Homo sapiens: one gene and its partners. The protein of the gene in region 2 purifies or fractionates together with the protein of the main gene of each other region. This does not show direct contact. Each region holds a gene or a part of one and is shown on either strand. Other genes may lie near its edges.

Region 1 (3,500 bases), on a different chromosome or scaffold from region 2:
AGCCACCCACCCTGCTCCTCCTCCTCCTCCTGGACACACAGCTGCCCACACTCCTCCTCCTGGACACACAGCTGCCCACCCTCCTCCTCCTGGACACGCAGCCGCCCACCCTCCTCCTGGACACACAGCCGCCCACTCTCCTCCTCCTGGACATGCAGCCGCCCACCCTGCTCCTCCTCCTCCTGGACACACAGACACCTACCCTCCTCCTGCTGGACACACAGCCACCCACCCTGCTCTTCCTCCTCCCCCTCCTCCCTGCTGTTTGCTAAATGTGCCCCAACTACTCCTCCAGGCTCTGAAACCCAGAGGCTCTAACACCAGAAGTGCTGGGCAGGTGTTTTATGGTCTCTAGGGTGGCACGGAAGCATGCTTGGTGCTGAAGCCTGCTGAGACCTGGGCTCACCCGAGCCCCTCGCAGCCCTCGTGAGTGTCCCGCACGTCGCTGGGACGTTTCTTGCATGAGTGCAGGTGCCGCCTGTTCCTGGGTCCACACTGCGTGCACCTCATTGGCGTTTAGAGCCTGAAAGATTCTTAATTCCACAGAAATCAGGGAAGGATGGGCCTAGGCCCGCAGTTCTGAGGAGACCCATGAACCTGGTTCGTGTGCTTGTCATGTGCTCTCGGGAAATACATCCTGTGTGGAGAGCCCTTCGCATCTCCTGCGGCAAACAGTCTTGGGGCCCTCATGACAGGAACGTTTCTTTGAATTTTTTTTTTTTTTTTTTTTTTTTTTTTTTGAGACAGAGTCTCGCTCTGTCGCCCAGGCTGGAGTGCAGTGGCGAGATCTTGAGATCTTGGCTCACTGCAACCTCCACCTCCTGGGTTCAAGCAATTCACTGCCTCAGCCTCCCGAGTAGCTAGGATTACAGGCACCCGCCACCATGCCTGGCTAATTTTTGTATTTTTAGTAGAGACAGGGTTTCACCATTTTGGCCAGGGTGGTCTCGAACTCCTGACCTCGTGATCCACCTGTCTCAGCCTCCCAAAATGCTAGGATTACAGGCGTGAGCCACTGCACCCGGCCCAATTTTTTGAATTCTTAAGAGAAAGCTCAGCCCTGCCTGCCAAATTCTTAGAAGTTACACACACAGAAACTCCAAATTCATCACATAAACCACAATTTTGTGTTTTCGGTGCTCAGATATAGAACCTTCCCATCCTTTTTCCCTTGTATGAAGCTTGTGTCCTCAATCACCGCAGAAATAGGTTATGACAGTTGCCTTTTAAGCAAGGAGATGTAAGCCTTGGTTCTGTTTCTCATAGAATTAAATAAACTTGAAATGTGCAGGGCTCATTGTGGAATCACCCGAGTGCTCCGAAACTCCCTGAAATCCACTCATTAACACCAGACAGGTGCGACTCCTGGTGAGCCAGGTATTCCACCGTGCACCTGTTCTGTTTCACCTGCAGGGTAAAGAAAAAGTACTGGAAGATTGTCAGCTGCCGAAGGTCGATCTCGTAGCTCAGGTGAAACAGCTTCAGGAAAAACTGAACCGTTTGCTGTATTCCATGACCTTCCAGAATGTGGATGCTGCCGACACCAAATCTCTGTGGCCCATGGCCTCAGCACACCTGTTGGAGAGCAGCTGGAGTGATGATTCCTGTGACGGAGAAGAGCCTGACATATCACCCCACATAGACACATGTGATGCCAATACAGCCACGGGGGGTGTAACTGATGTTATCAAAAATCAGGCCATAGACGCGTGTGATGCCAATACAACCCCAGGGGGTGTAACTGATGTTATCAAAAATTGGGATTCCTTGATACCAGATGAAATGCCAGATTCTCCCATTCAAGAAAAATCAGAATGTCAGGACATGTCTCTTTCTTCACCGACCAGCGTACTTGGTGGCTCCCGCCACCAGAGCCACACTGCAGAGGCTGGGCCCCGGAAGAGCCCGGTCGGGATGCTGGACCTGTCTTCCTGGAGCTCCCCTGAGGTCCTCAGGAAGGACTGGACCCTGGAGCCCTGGCCCAGCCTCCCCGTGACACCCCACTCAGGAGCCCTGAGCCTGTGCAGTGCCGACACATCCCTGGGGGACAGGGCGGACACCTCGCTGCCACAGACCCAGGGGCCGGGGCTGCTTTGTTCCCCAGGCGTGTCTGCAGCAGCGCTGGCACTGCAGTGGGCCGAGTCTCCGCCGGCTGACGACCACCATGTGCAGAGGACGGCTGTGGTAGGTGCCTGCTCTGCTCCCAGGCCTGCTGTTCCCGTGGGAATGTGGTCTGCCCGGCGCCACGGCAGCTGCCATTGTTTGTTCACCTCCTGACAGCACACACCTCGCAGTGCTGTGTGGGGCCAGCTCTGCAGGACTGGCATCATGGGCGCATTTAGATTATTTCAGTTGTTCAGGTATTTTTAAAATGCCTGAGATGCATTTGCCTGCCTCAGACATACCCTGGGCATGCTTCTCCACTGACGCTGACTCCAACGGGCATAGCCCAGACACGTCTTCGTGTGTGATGGGCATAGGGTTCTTTGTCCAGAATGGTTTTTTAGATTTATTTTTAGGAATGCTTCCTTTTTTTTTTTTTTTTTTTTTTTTTGTGAGATGGAGTCTCGCTCTGTCACCCAGGCTAGAGTGCAGTGACGCAATCTCGGCTCACTGCAGCCTCCGCCTCCCCAGGTTCAAGCAAATCTCCTGCCTCAGCCTCCCTAGTAGCTGGGACTACAGGCACACGCCACCACACCCGGCTAATTTTTGTAGTTTAGTAGAGACGGGGTTTTACCTTATTGGTCAGGCTGGTCTCGAACTCCTGACCTCATGATCCACCCACCTCAGCCTCCCAAAGTGCTGGGCTTACAGGCGTGAGCCACCATGCTCAGCCAGAAATGCTTCATATTTTTAACAGGTTTCACATATGCTAATTAATTTTAATTTATGAGTTAGATCGTATTATTTCTAACATAATCATTTTGGGATTTTGTGTATCTTGAGTAAGATAAAATTAAAAATCAGGTATGGTTGGGCTCATGCTTGTAGTCTCAGCACTTTGGGAGGCTGAGGCGGGAGGATTGCTTGAGCCCAGGAATTTGAGACCAGGCTGGGTAACACGGTGAGACCCTGTCTCTACAAAAAAAACACAAAAAATTAGCTGGGCGTGCTGGTGCCGCCCATGGTCCCTGCTCTTCAGGAGGCTGAGGCAGGAGGATCACTTGACCTTGGGAGGTTGAGGATGCAGTGAGCCAAGATTGAACCACTGCACTCCAGCCTGGGTGACAGAGTGAGACCCTCCCTCAAAAAATAATAATTTAGCAGATACATATTATCTGAAACATCCATATACTATCATTTCATGCAAAACAATTTAAATCTGAAATATTTACTATTGGCTACATTAAAATATTCCTAAAGAGCTGTGGGTGAATCTGATTAAATTGTTGGAAGCATTCGACCTGTGTGTTCACCAGTTTTGAGTTGTTTCATCTGGGGTCTATGTGGGAAGATAAATTCAGGCCTTTGAAAGTTTTCACCTGGCAAAGTCAGCGCTA
Region 2 (3,500 bases):
GGACCAGGAGTTTGACCCTCACCCTGTCCAACTGGTTTTCTAGGATCCTGATCCTTCGCCTGATCTTGACCTTCTGATCCAGGATGAATCCCGGGGACCTGACATTCTTACTGTGGGTAAAGATCCGCGTCTCCCACTCCTGGATCTACAAGAAAGAGGATGGTACCTGTTTTTGGTTGCCTGAATGTGGGAGAGATTGAATGGCCCAGGGAAAATGAGTCACTAAGCATGGCAAACATCTGCTGTCCCTGTCACCCCAGAATAACATCTACCCTTCTGCTGACACTATCCAGCCCTCCATGTGGTTCTGGTGGGCCTTCCAACCACAGTGTATCACCCTATCAGCCACATGACCCAGGTCTGGACACTCACAGGGATTGGCCTAGAGATGGGAATGTGACCCCATGGAGCTAGCCTGACTCCTTTCCGTTTTTTTTTTTGTTTTTTTTTTTTTTTTTTTTGAGACAGAGTCTTGCTCTGTCTCCCAGGCTGGAGTGTGCAGTGGCGCGATCTTGGCTCACTGCAACCTCCACCTCCCAGGCTCGAGCAATTCTAGTGCCTCAACCTCCCGAGTAGCTGGGATTACAGGCACGTACCACCACACCCAGCTAATTTTTGTATTTTTAGTAGAGATGGGGTTTCACCATGTTGGCCAGGCTGATCTTGAACTCCTGACCTCAAGTGATCCACCCGCCTTGGCCTCCCAAAGTGCTGGGATTACAGGCAAGAGCCACTGCACCCGGCCCTGACTCCTTTCCTGATAGTCTGGGGGAAGCACATGAGATGGAAGGATGGGATTCCAGGACTTCTCCTGTCATGGCCCCACCACAGGGAGGGTCCTGGGAGAATGAGGCCAGTGGACAGAAGTGGAGATGAGAGTCGGAGAGACGGTGAGAATGAACTTGATGACATTAGTAGCCCTGGGTCTGCTTATGCCTAAGACCAGCTTCCAATCTGTCCTCATTTCTGTATTCATCTGTACTTATTGGGGTGTGCTCTGTCTCTCCCAGCAAACTGGGGGTTCCATGAGGACACAGAGTCTTGTGTTTTCTCCCTGTCCGAGACAAAGAAGGTATTCAACATAACATGCAGACTAAATAGATAAATGAATTGCTCAACACTTCAATTTGTGCTCTGTTATGGGTTGAATCATGTCCCATAAAAACTCATATGTTGGCCGGGCACGGTGGCTCACACCTGTAATCCCAGCACTCTGGGAGGCAGAGGTGGGTGAATCAGCTGAGGTCAGGAGTTCAAGACCACCCTGGCCAACATGGCGAAACCCCACCTCTACTAAAATACAAAAATTAGCAAGGCGTGGTGGCAGGCACCTGTAATCCCAGCTACTCGGGAGGCTGAGGCAGGAGAATTGCTTGAACCCAGGAGGAGAGGTTGCAGTGAGCTGAGATTGTGCCACTGCACTCCAGCCTGGGGAACAGAACAAGACTCCATCTCAAAAAAAAAAAAAAAAAAAACCAAAAAAAAACCTCACATGTTGAAGTCTTAACCCCCAGTACTTTAGAATGTGACCTTATTTGGAGACAGAGTCTTCATAGAAGTAATTAAAATGAGGTAATTAAGGTGGGCCCTAATCCACTACGACGAGGTGTTCTTAGAAAAATGGGAAATTGCTGGGTGTGGTGGCTCATGCCTGTAATCCCAATACTTTGGAAGGCTGAGGCAGGATGATCTCTCGAAGCCAGGAGTTCAAGACCAGCCTGGGCCACAAAGCAAGACCCCATCTCTACAAGATACAAAATAAATTAGCTGGGCATGGTGGTGCACACCTGTAGTCCTAGCTACTTGGGAAGCTGAGGTGGCAGATCCCTTGAGACAAGGAGCTCGAAGCTGCAGTGAGCTGTGATTGAGCCACTGTACTCCAGCCTGGGTGACAGAGGGAGATCCTGTCTCAAAACAAAACAAAACAAAAAAGGAAATTTGGACATAGATACGCACACAGGGAGAATGCCACGTAAGGATAAAGACAGAGGTCAGGTGTGGTGGCTCACGCCTGTAATCCCAACACTTTCGGAGGCTGAGATGGGTGGATAACTTGAGGTCAGGAGTTCGAGACCAGCCTGGCCAACATGGCGAAACCCCATCTCTACTAAACATACAAAAATTAGCCAGGTGTGGTGGCACATGCCTGTAATCCCAGCTACTTGGGAGGCTGAGGCAGGAGAATCGCTTGAACCCAGGGGGTGGAGGCTGCAGTGAGCTGAGAGATTGGGTGACATGTCTACAAGCCAAAGTACCCAAGACTGCCAGCAAACCGGCAGAAGCAGAGAGAGAGAGGCATGGAACAGACAGATTCTCCCCCACACTGCTCAGAAGGAACCAAACCTGCCTACATCTTGATCTTGGACTTCTGGCCTTTGGAACTATGAGAAAACATATTTTTGTTATACGAGCCACCCAATTTGTGGAACTTTGTCATAGCAGCCCTAACAAACTAATCCACGTACCAAAGATACCCCAGAAGGCTGCAGCAAACTTAAGACTCAGCATGAGGATGTTTTAAATTTTTGAGGAAGACCTTGATATTGGTCAGATACCACATGAACTGCTAGCTTAAGGCAGTTCACAAGTTCAACATGAGAGGGCGCTATCATCCTTTTGAAGATGTCACATCTTTGTGAGACTGGATTTTCAGCAGTTGCTGCAATAAAAGCCAAATACCCAATTGTTGGTGGGCGCAGTGTCTCACGCCTGTAATCCCAGCACTTTGAGAGGCCGAGGCGAGTGGATCACCTGAGGTCAGGAGTTTGAGACCAGCCTGGCCAAAATGGTGAAACCCCATCTCTACTAAAAATACAAAAATTAGCTGGGCGTAATGGCACGTGACTGTAATCCCAGCTACTCGGGTGGCTGAAGCACGAGAATCACTTGAGCCTGGCCTGGGAGGTGGAGGCTGCAATGAGCCGAGATTGCACCACTGCACTCCAGCCTGGGTGACTGAGCGAGACTCCACCTCAAAAAAGAAAAGAAAAAGAAATGTCCAAAATGTTGACACTGGGGGAAAATGCAGCAAAGTGTACAAGGGATGTCTCTGCATTATTTCTTTCAACTGCACATGAATCCCAACAAAATTTTCTTTCTTTCTTTTATTTTTTCTTTTTTTTAGAGACAGGGTCTCACTCTGTCACCCAGGCCGAGTGCAGTGGCACCATCATAGCTCACTGCAGCCTCCACCTCCCAGGCCAGGCTCAAGCAATCCTCCTGCCTCAGTAATTGCTTTATGAAAGAAGAGATGACATACGGTAAAACTGCACATATTTAGTGTTCAATGTGGGATGGGCACGGTGGCTCACGCCTGTAATCCCAGCACTTTGGGAGGCTGAGGTGGGCAGATCCCCTGAGGTCAGGAGTTCGAGACCAGCCTGGCCAACATGGCGAAACCCCGTCTCTACTAAAAATACAAAATTAGCCAGGCATCGTGGCAGGCACCCGTAGTCCCAACTACCCAGGAGGCTGAGGCAGAAGAGTTGCTTGAACCCAGG
Region 3 (3,500 bases), on a different chromosome or scaffold from region 2:
CCAGGCCAGTGTTTTTCAAGTATACACAAAATTCTTATACACTGACAAATTTAAGCTGTCACTCTGTTTTATAATAATCTAACGGTTTTGTTTCATTTCTTTACCTTTACAGGTAAATATTTTAGATTTTGTAAGCCATACAGTCTCTGTTGCAACTACTAAAATCTGTCTATGGCGAAATACACAGATACTCCATCATCCTATGTTAGCCTAAAGACCCCATGAAGAGATGTAGGCTGCTGAGCCTGGGCCACCAACCCACATCTCTCTCGGCCCCTCACTGATCACTCCCTGGTCAATGTAACATATTCCCTCAGAAATGGCACTCCTGGGGCGGGAGTGGTGGCTCACACCTGTAATCCCAACACTTTGGGAGGCTGAGGCGGGTAGATTACCTGAGGTCAGGAGTTTGAGACCAGCCTGACCAACGTGGTGAAACCCCATCTCTACTAAAAAAAATACAAAAATTAGCTGGGTGTGGTGGTGCATGCCTGTAATCTCAGCTACTCTGGAGGCTGAGGCAGGAGAATCGCTTGAACCTGGGAGGTGGAGGTTGCAGTGAGCCGAGATTGCACCACTGCACTCCAACAGGGGCAACAAGAGTGAAACTCCGTCTCAAAAAAAAAAAAGAAAGAAAGAAAGAAAAAGAAAAAGAAACAGCACTTCTCACACAGTCTTCCTCCTGGCACCATCTAGGTTCCCTCCACTTCTACCACTCACTGTCCACCTAGTCCTGCAGCTCCTAGACACCAATGCCTTTGCCTCTATTCCCCTTTAGCCACATGCCTGCAGTCCTGTTCAGTCTGTGGACCTTGGCATTATCAGAAAAAACTTTCTGCCTCTTAAATCTTAAACTTGATTATTCTCTTATCCAACTACAACTTTCTCCCTTATAGTACTTTTACTTCCTTCTCCCCAGAGACCCATTTGGCAGCTTCATCAAAACCTCCGGACCTGATGTATCAGATTCTATCCTTCTGCTACTCCTTCGCCACAAAACTAATGGTCACCCCACAAAGCAAAACCCCAACAGCCCCGTGCTCTGTGCTCACCTGTCAGCTACAGTACTACTGGAAGAGGTCATTTGATTGTGTCATCCATTGCCAATATATGTCAGCTGGACCCATAGCACCCCCTGCAACCATCTTCCACAAGTCTCTGTTGGCTCTCACCCATTCTTCACAGCAATTAAATCAAACCTTCACTGCTCTCCTAAAGCCCCACTTGTCTACTGGCGCTCAGCAAACCATTTACCCTGTTTCCCAGAGAAAACAGGCCAGCAGACAGGAAATCCCTCAAATATCTGTCCCCATTTACACACTCATGTGCATCACTACCTATCTTCATCTCCTTCATTTTCATGCTTGTGTAAGATGGGTCCTTCTTCACTTAAGTTAATCCCTCCACCTGGGATCTGAATCATCCTACCTTCCATGGGACCTTGAGCCATCAACTATTCTTCCTGCTTCTCTTTGACCCTTCCCCTTCTACTCACTCCTCTCAGCAATTTTAACCATGCTTAAGTTTTCCCCATGACCCAAAGACACACAACACCCCTCACCATCACCACTACCACACACCTTGCCAGATACTGATGTTGCTCTTTCCTTTTCTTCACAGGCAATCTTTTAATAAGTTGAATTATCTGTTTGCTTTTCTTGTATCATATTCATTCTCTAACCAACTGTAGTCTGGCTTCTACCCCCACCACTCCACTGAAATGCCCCTAGCATAGGTCACTAATGACCGGTTGGATACTAATTCCCATGGATGTTCCTTATTTCTTGATAATAAAAAGAATAATAATATGAAACATGTATATAGCATTTACTATGTGCCAGGACTGTTTTAAGTACTTTACACATATTTATTAATTTAATCCTCACGACACCCCATGGGTAGGTACTATCATTACTCCCTTTTTGCAGATGAGGAAACAAAGGTTCAGAGAAGCTCAAGTAACCTGTCCAAGTGTATTAATCTATTCTCACGCTGCCAATAAAGATATACCTGAAATTGGGTAATTTATAAAAGAGGTTTAATTGACTCACAGTTCTACATGGCTGGGGAGGCTTCACAATCATGGCGGAAGGTGAAGGAGGAGCAAAGTTATATCTTACATGGTGACAGGTAAAGAGGGCGTGTGCAAGGAAACTCTCCTTTATAAATCCATCAGATCTCATGAGACTTATGATCACAAGAACAGCATGTGAAAGACCTGTCCCCATGATTCAATTACCTCCCACCAAGTCCCTCCGACGACATGTGGGAATTATGGGAGCTACAATTCAAGATGAGATTTGGGTGGGGACACAGCCAAACCATATCACCAAGACTACACAATCTCTCTCTAAGCACTTGCCACTTTCCAGAAGGAAGCAGGGAGTCTATCTTTTCCTCCCATCTCTCTGACCTCTCTTGGTCTCTTTTTTGCTCTCTTCATCTTCTACCTTGATTTTGACATTCCCTATGATTTTGTCTTTTTGGCCCTCATCTCATGCTGTACAATCTCCTTAAGGTCATTCTGACTCATGGCTACATGCTAATGAACTCTTATCCAGGATGTACCACACACACCTCAAACTCGACAGGTCCCCAACTGAACTTGTCAACCCTAAACCTGTTCCTCCTCCCTTGTTTTCCTTCTTAATTAGAATGGTATCGGCCAGGCACAGTGGCTCACACCCTTAATCCTAGAACTTTGGGAGGCCAAGATGGGAGAATCGCTTGAGCCCAGGAGTTCGAGACCAGCTTGGGCAACATGGCGAAACTCTATCTCTACAAAAAATTTAAAAATTAGCCAGGTGTGGTGGTGTGCACCTGTAGTCTCTACTACTCAGGAGGCTGAGGTGGGAGGATCGCTCCTGCCTGGGAGTATAAGGCTGCAGTGAATTATGATTGCACCACTGCACTTCGGCTTGGGCGACAGTGCAAGACCCTGTCTTTTAAAAAAAAAAAAAGCAAAAAAAAAAAGCTATCTTCACTTATTCAGTAGATGAGGCTAGAATCTGGAAGACATTTCATTGTTTTTCCCTTTAGTTCCTGTACTCTGAGTTCCTTAAATTATTTATTTATATGTACATGGGTATATACACATATACCTTTATTCATTATCTCTCAATTCTTTGACTTGAGAATTATTCACTAATAATTCTGAATTACTCAATTATTCACTATCACTTGAATTACTCATTACCTCTCAATTCTCCTACACACTGACGTCACTCAGCTTATGCTTCCATACTACCCGTGCCCAATAGCCTTACCCATCTCTCTGCCCTTCTCTCTCTCTCCTGGATGCTCCAAAACTTTCTCTGCTCTACTGGCACTGATCTTTGCCATCATTTCACTTAAAAACTTTCAGCGGGGCCAGGCGTGGTGGCTCACGCCTGTAATCCCAGCACTTTGGGAGGCCGAGGCAGGTGGATCATGAGGTCAGGAGATCGAGACCATCCTGGCTAACAAGGTGAAACCCCGTCTCTACTAAAAATACAAAAAAT
Region 4 (3,500 bases), on a different chromosome or scaffold from region 2:
CAGTGTCAGCGGCTGCCCTCGGGCTGGGCTGCGGTACTCACCGGCCAGCGGCCCGTGCTTGTCGTTCAAGGCCTCGGACAGGTGCTTAACTCGGAAATCATGCTCGTGACCTGGCGAGATGTCGGCCGCACAAACACAAGCAGCGTTTATCCAGGGGCCAGGCAGGCCGCCCCTTGGGGTACAGGGAAGAAGCCCTTCATCTCCAGGAGGGGGACGTCAGATGGGGATGGGGAAGGGGGCATCGGAGAGGGCCCTGAGCCCCTCCTCTACCTCAAGCCACCTTGGGAACAGCCGTTTCAAGCCTGACTTCAGTGAGCACCCAGGACCGTCCTTAGCTGCTCATTTCCCCGAGCCTGGAGGCCCAGGGAAAGCGGAGAAGGACCAAGGAGGGGCTGAAGAGCTGATGCTTGGCCCCAGGGGGGTTCCCCACCTCGCTGTATTTGGGGAAAGCCCCAGTTTGCCTGTCCTCTGCTGCACACACTCCCCTTTCTAAAGATGGGAAGGCCGGGAGGCCTCGGCCAGCTGGGGCCTGCCACTGCTGGTCTGAGCGTGAAAGGGCTGCCCCAAGACAAATAACTTTTTCTGAGTTCACACAGGAGACAAGGACAGAGACAGGGAAGGGAGGAGGGAAGCCTCAGGGAGGGCAGAGCTGCCATCAGCCAGAGAGGACCAGGCCGAGGGCTGCGAAACTGTCCCTGTGCCCGCTGAAGCCCGAGTGGCATCGGGGACCTGCCGTTCCCACCCTGCTCCCCTCAGGGTTTCTCCCGAGGCCCTCCTGGGGGAGGCTCTGCCCTGCCAAGTGCGTGGACACACAGTGGAGGAGGAAGGGACAGGAGGGGAACACAGGGTGATTACCTTCCAGAGGAATGAGGTTAGAGCCCCCCTTTTTCCCATCTAGACCATGCTGGGAATACTGTTTCAGAAGGTTCTGAGCCTTACGGATCGTCCCTGTCACCAGAGCCACACAGAGAGGAGATAAGAAGACCTAGGAAATGAGTGAGAGAAAACAGCAGCGGCCCTCCACCTGCCCCCCAGGCCCCGCACCCAGCTCCCCAACAGTGAGCAGGCCTTTCCCTGAGACCACCAGAGACGCTGGGGACAAGGATGAAGGAAAGGAGTCATTTCCTTCTCCAAATGGAGCCTTGATTCTACTACCGACCCTCCTTGTTCTGGATTTCAGCTCATTTCTGAAAGGACAGAGGGTAATGAAGATGGACCAAGATCCACCAGGAGAAGTCAAAAATATGGAGTGGCATCATAATCAGAACAGGCGAGGGCTCAGGTCGGAGGAGCCCGTGACAAAGCTCGCATACCCAGAGGGCACAACCAGGGTGGGAGAGCCTGGGGGGCACCCTGAAGCCAGCAGGCCCCCAGCCCAGCCCCAAACTCCAGGCAGAGTTCTCCGAGCATGCTCAGTGTTGGGACGTACGCCAAACAGCAGCCAGCAGGAAGCCACCCTGACTGAACTTCCGGGGGAGCGCTGTGCCCAAGGCGGACGGCTCAGAGACCCAGAGGCAGCCTAGCCCCACACCAGAGTTCCCCAAACCACCAAAGCGACAAGAAAAAATCCAAAAGTCAAGAAGGGGTTAACAGAAGCCACCACACAGAGCGCCTGGAGGGTGTGCACGGAAGGAGAGGGCACATGCTCTTGGCATGGGGGAGAAAAACAATAGTTAGTATCACAAGTGAAAACAATGAGAACAAAATGGCAGCACCCACAGCCGCCTGGGTCAGCCTCCTTTGTGGGAATGAGACATCTCGGGCCAGAAGACGTCGGGAAATCAACTCGCATCTCAAGCAGACAAGTGCAGCTGCCTTGTTAACAAAATGTATAGGGGCAGAAAGGCACCCGGGATGCCTCCCACCCCCACAGTCTATCTGAGCACAGTGAGGCTGCTGTGTCCTGGCAGCTCCCCAGAAAGCTGAGGGAGAAAGGGGCAGTGTCTGGAGGCTCACTGCTTACACCTGCACCGCACCGCACCGCACAACACCACAATTAGCTTGTTTTTTTTTTTTTTTTTTTTTTTGAGACAGTCTCACTCTGTCGCCCAGGCTGGAGTACGGTGGCACGACCTCGGCTCACTGCAACCTCTGCCTCCTGGGTTCAAGTGATTCTCCTGCCTCAGCCTCCCAGGTAGCTGGGATTATAGGCGTGCGTCACCACACCCAACTAATTTTTTTTCTATTTTTAGTAGAGACAGGGTTTCACCATGTTGGCCAGGCTGGTCTCGAACTCCTGACCTCAGGTGATCCGCCCGCCTCGGCCTCCCGAAGTGCTAGGATTACAGGCGTGAGCCACCATACTTGGCCCATAATTAGCTCCTAATAACCAAGGCCTGGCTCACGTCTCCCTTGCTCATGCTCTCCCCTTCAGCGAGTGCGGCTTACTAATGAGTGAATCTGATTCCTGCCCCACAACCCACCAGGAGCAGACACAGACGCAGGTGCACGCCGGCAGGATGTGGGTCGCCGATGTGGATCTAGCAGCCGCCAAACCCGTCAGGCTCCCAATTGCCTCCAGGGATGCTGAGGTCGGTGCTTCACCACCTGGGAGGCCTCCCTGTCCCTCTCCTCAGAAGTGGGAACCGACATCCCCAGAGCCTGACTCCCTAGAGCCTGACATCGGTCCTGAGCCCACCAGTTCCTGACAACTCTGAAACCCCACAGCTGGAGTTTTCCTCTAGTGTCTCTGGCCCAAGGATGGATGTGGTCCACTGTGAGCCACCTGAGATCAGATCCCTCCTGCCTGAAAGGCCAGGTAGCTGCATGGCCAGCGGGCACTCTTAAGGCAGTGCAAATAGGGCTCTGGGGCTTCTGGGGGACCTGTCAGGGAGCCAGGCAGAAGAGGAAGCAAGCACAGACTGGCTGGGGCCCAAGCATCCTAGCAGCCTCATAGAGACAGCCACTCCCCACCACACAGAAGGCACAGAGCTGCTCCATCCACTGTGCAGGCAGCTGCGCCCACAGGCTGGGCTGGCAGTCCCCATTTGCAGCAGGTTTTGGCTGGTGGGCAGGATTTCCACACTGGAGGGAGAAGGCCCCAGGCACCAGCTCCCTAATGCTCTACTCCCTGAGGGCAGCCCCTGCTCTGCCTGTTTCTCCAAACCCTAAACAAAGGCCTGCAGGGGAGCGGGTGCTCTTGTGGAACAGACACCTCACTCTCTGAGGGGCATGAGCAGGCAGGGACTGGAGAAACCAAGGGTGTAAGTAAGCTCTACCCAAAGCTTGTTGTCATAAGCAGGTGCCACAGGCCACAACTAGGGCATGTGCCCACAGCAGCAGCTGGACAGGGGGCCAGCCTGGGTGGGAGCAGCCCCGGCTTCTCCAGCTTTCTTTTTCAGTGCAATCTCAGCAGCCCCACCCCAGAACATCCCAGCACATCATCGAGCTGCGGGCAGCATCTCTCAGTGGCCAGACATAGCCGGGCTTGCCAAGCTGTGGCTGGCAGAGACACTGTTTACCTGGAGCACAGACTATAAGGGATATGATGCCGGGGAGAA

The links. Proteins that work in one complex are often made in the same cells at the same time.
Region 1: the proteins of ODAD1 (region 2) and PCNT purify together in Homo sapiens (affinity purification with mass spectrometry; one large-scale study listed by BioGRID and IntAct). This does not show direct contact.
Region 3: the proteins of ODAD1 (region 2) and PDCD7 purify together in Homo sapiens (affinity purification with mass spectrometry; one large-scale study listed by BioGRID and IntAct). This does not show direct contact.
Region 4: the proteins of ODAD1 (region 2) and EXOC7 purify together in Homo sapiens (affinity purification with mass spectrometry; one large-scale study listed by BioGRID and IntAct). This does not show direct contact.

The regions. Positions count from the first base shown.
Region 1 is NC_000021.9:46,414,656-46,418,155, forward strand, and holds part of PCNT (pericentrin), read left to right. Parts: intron 1-1,413; coding exon 1,414-2,184; intron 2,185-3,500. UniProt on the Homo sapiens protein: Integral component of the filamentous matrix of the centrosome involved in the initial establishment of organized microtubule arrays in both mitosis and meiosis. Plays a role, together with DISC1, in the microtubule network formation.
Region 2 is NC_000019.10:48,311,972-48,315,471, forward strand, and holds part of ODAD1 (outer dynein arm-docking complex subunit 1), read right to left. Parts: intron 146-3,500; coding exon 23-145; intron 1-22. UniProt on the Homo sapiens protein: Component of the outer dynein arm-docking complex (ODA-DC) that mediates outer dynein arms (ODA) binding onto the doublet microtubule. Involved in mediating assembly of both ODAs and their axonemal docking complex onto ciliary microtubules.
Region 3 is NC_000015.10:65,123,809-65,127,308, forward strand, and holds part of PDCD7 (programmed cell death protein 7), read right to left. Parts: intron 1-3,500. UniProt on the Homo sapiens protein: Promotes apoptosis when overexpressed.
Region 4 is NC_000017.11:76,090,288-76,093,787, forward strand, and holds part of EXOC7 (exocyst complex component 7), read right to left. Parts: intron 949-3,500; coding exon 856-948; intron 195-855; coding exon of another isoform or gene 42-194; intron 1-41. UniProt on the Homo sapiens protein: Component of the exocyst complex involved in the docking of exocytic vesicles with fusion sites on the plasma membrane.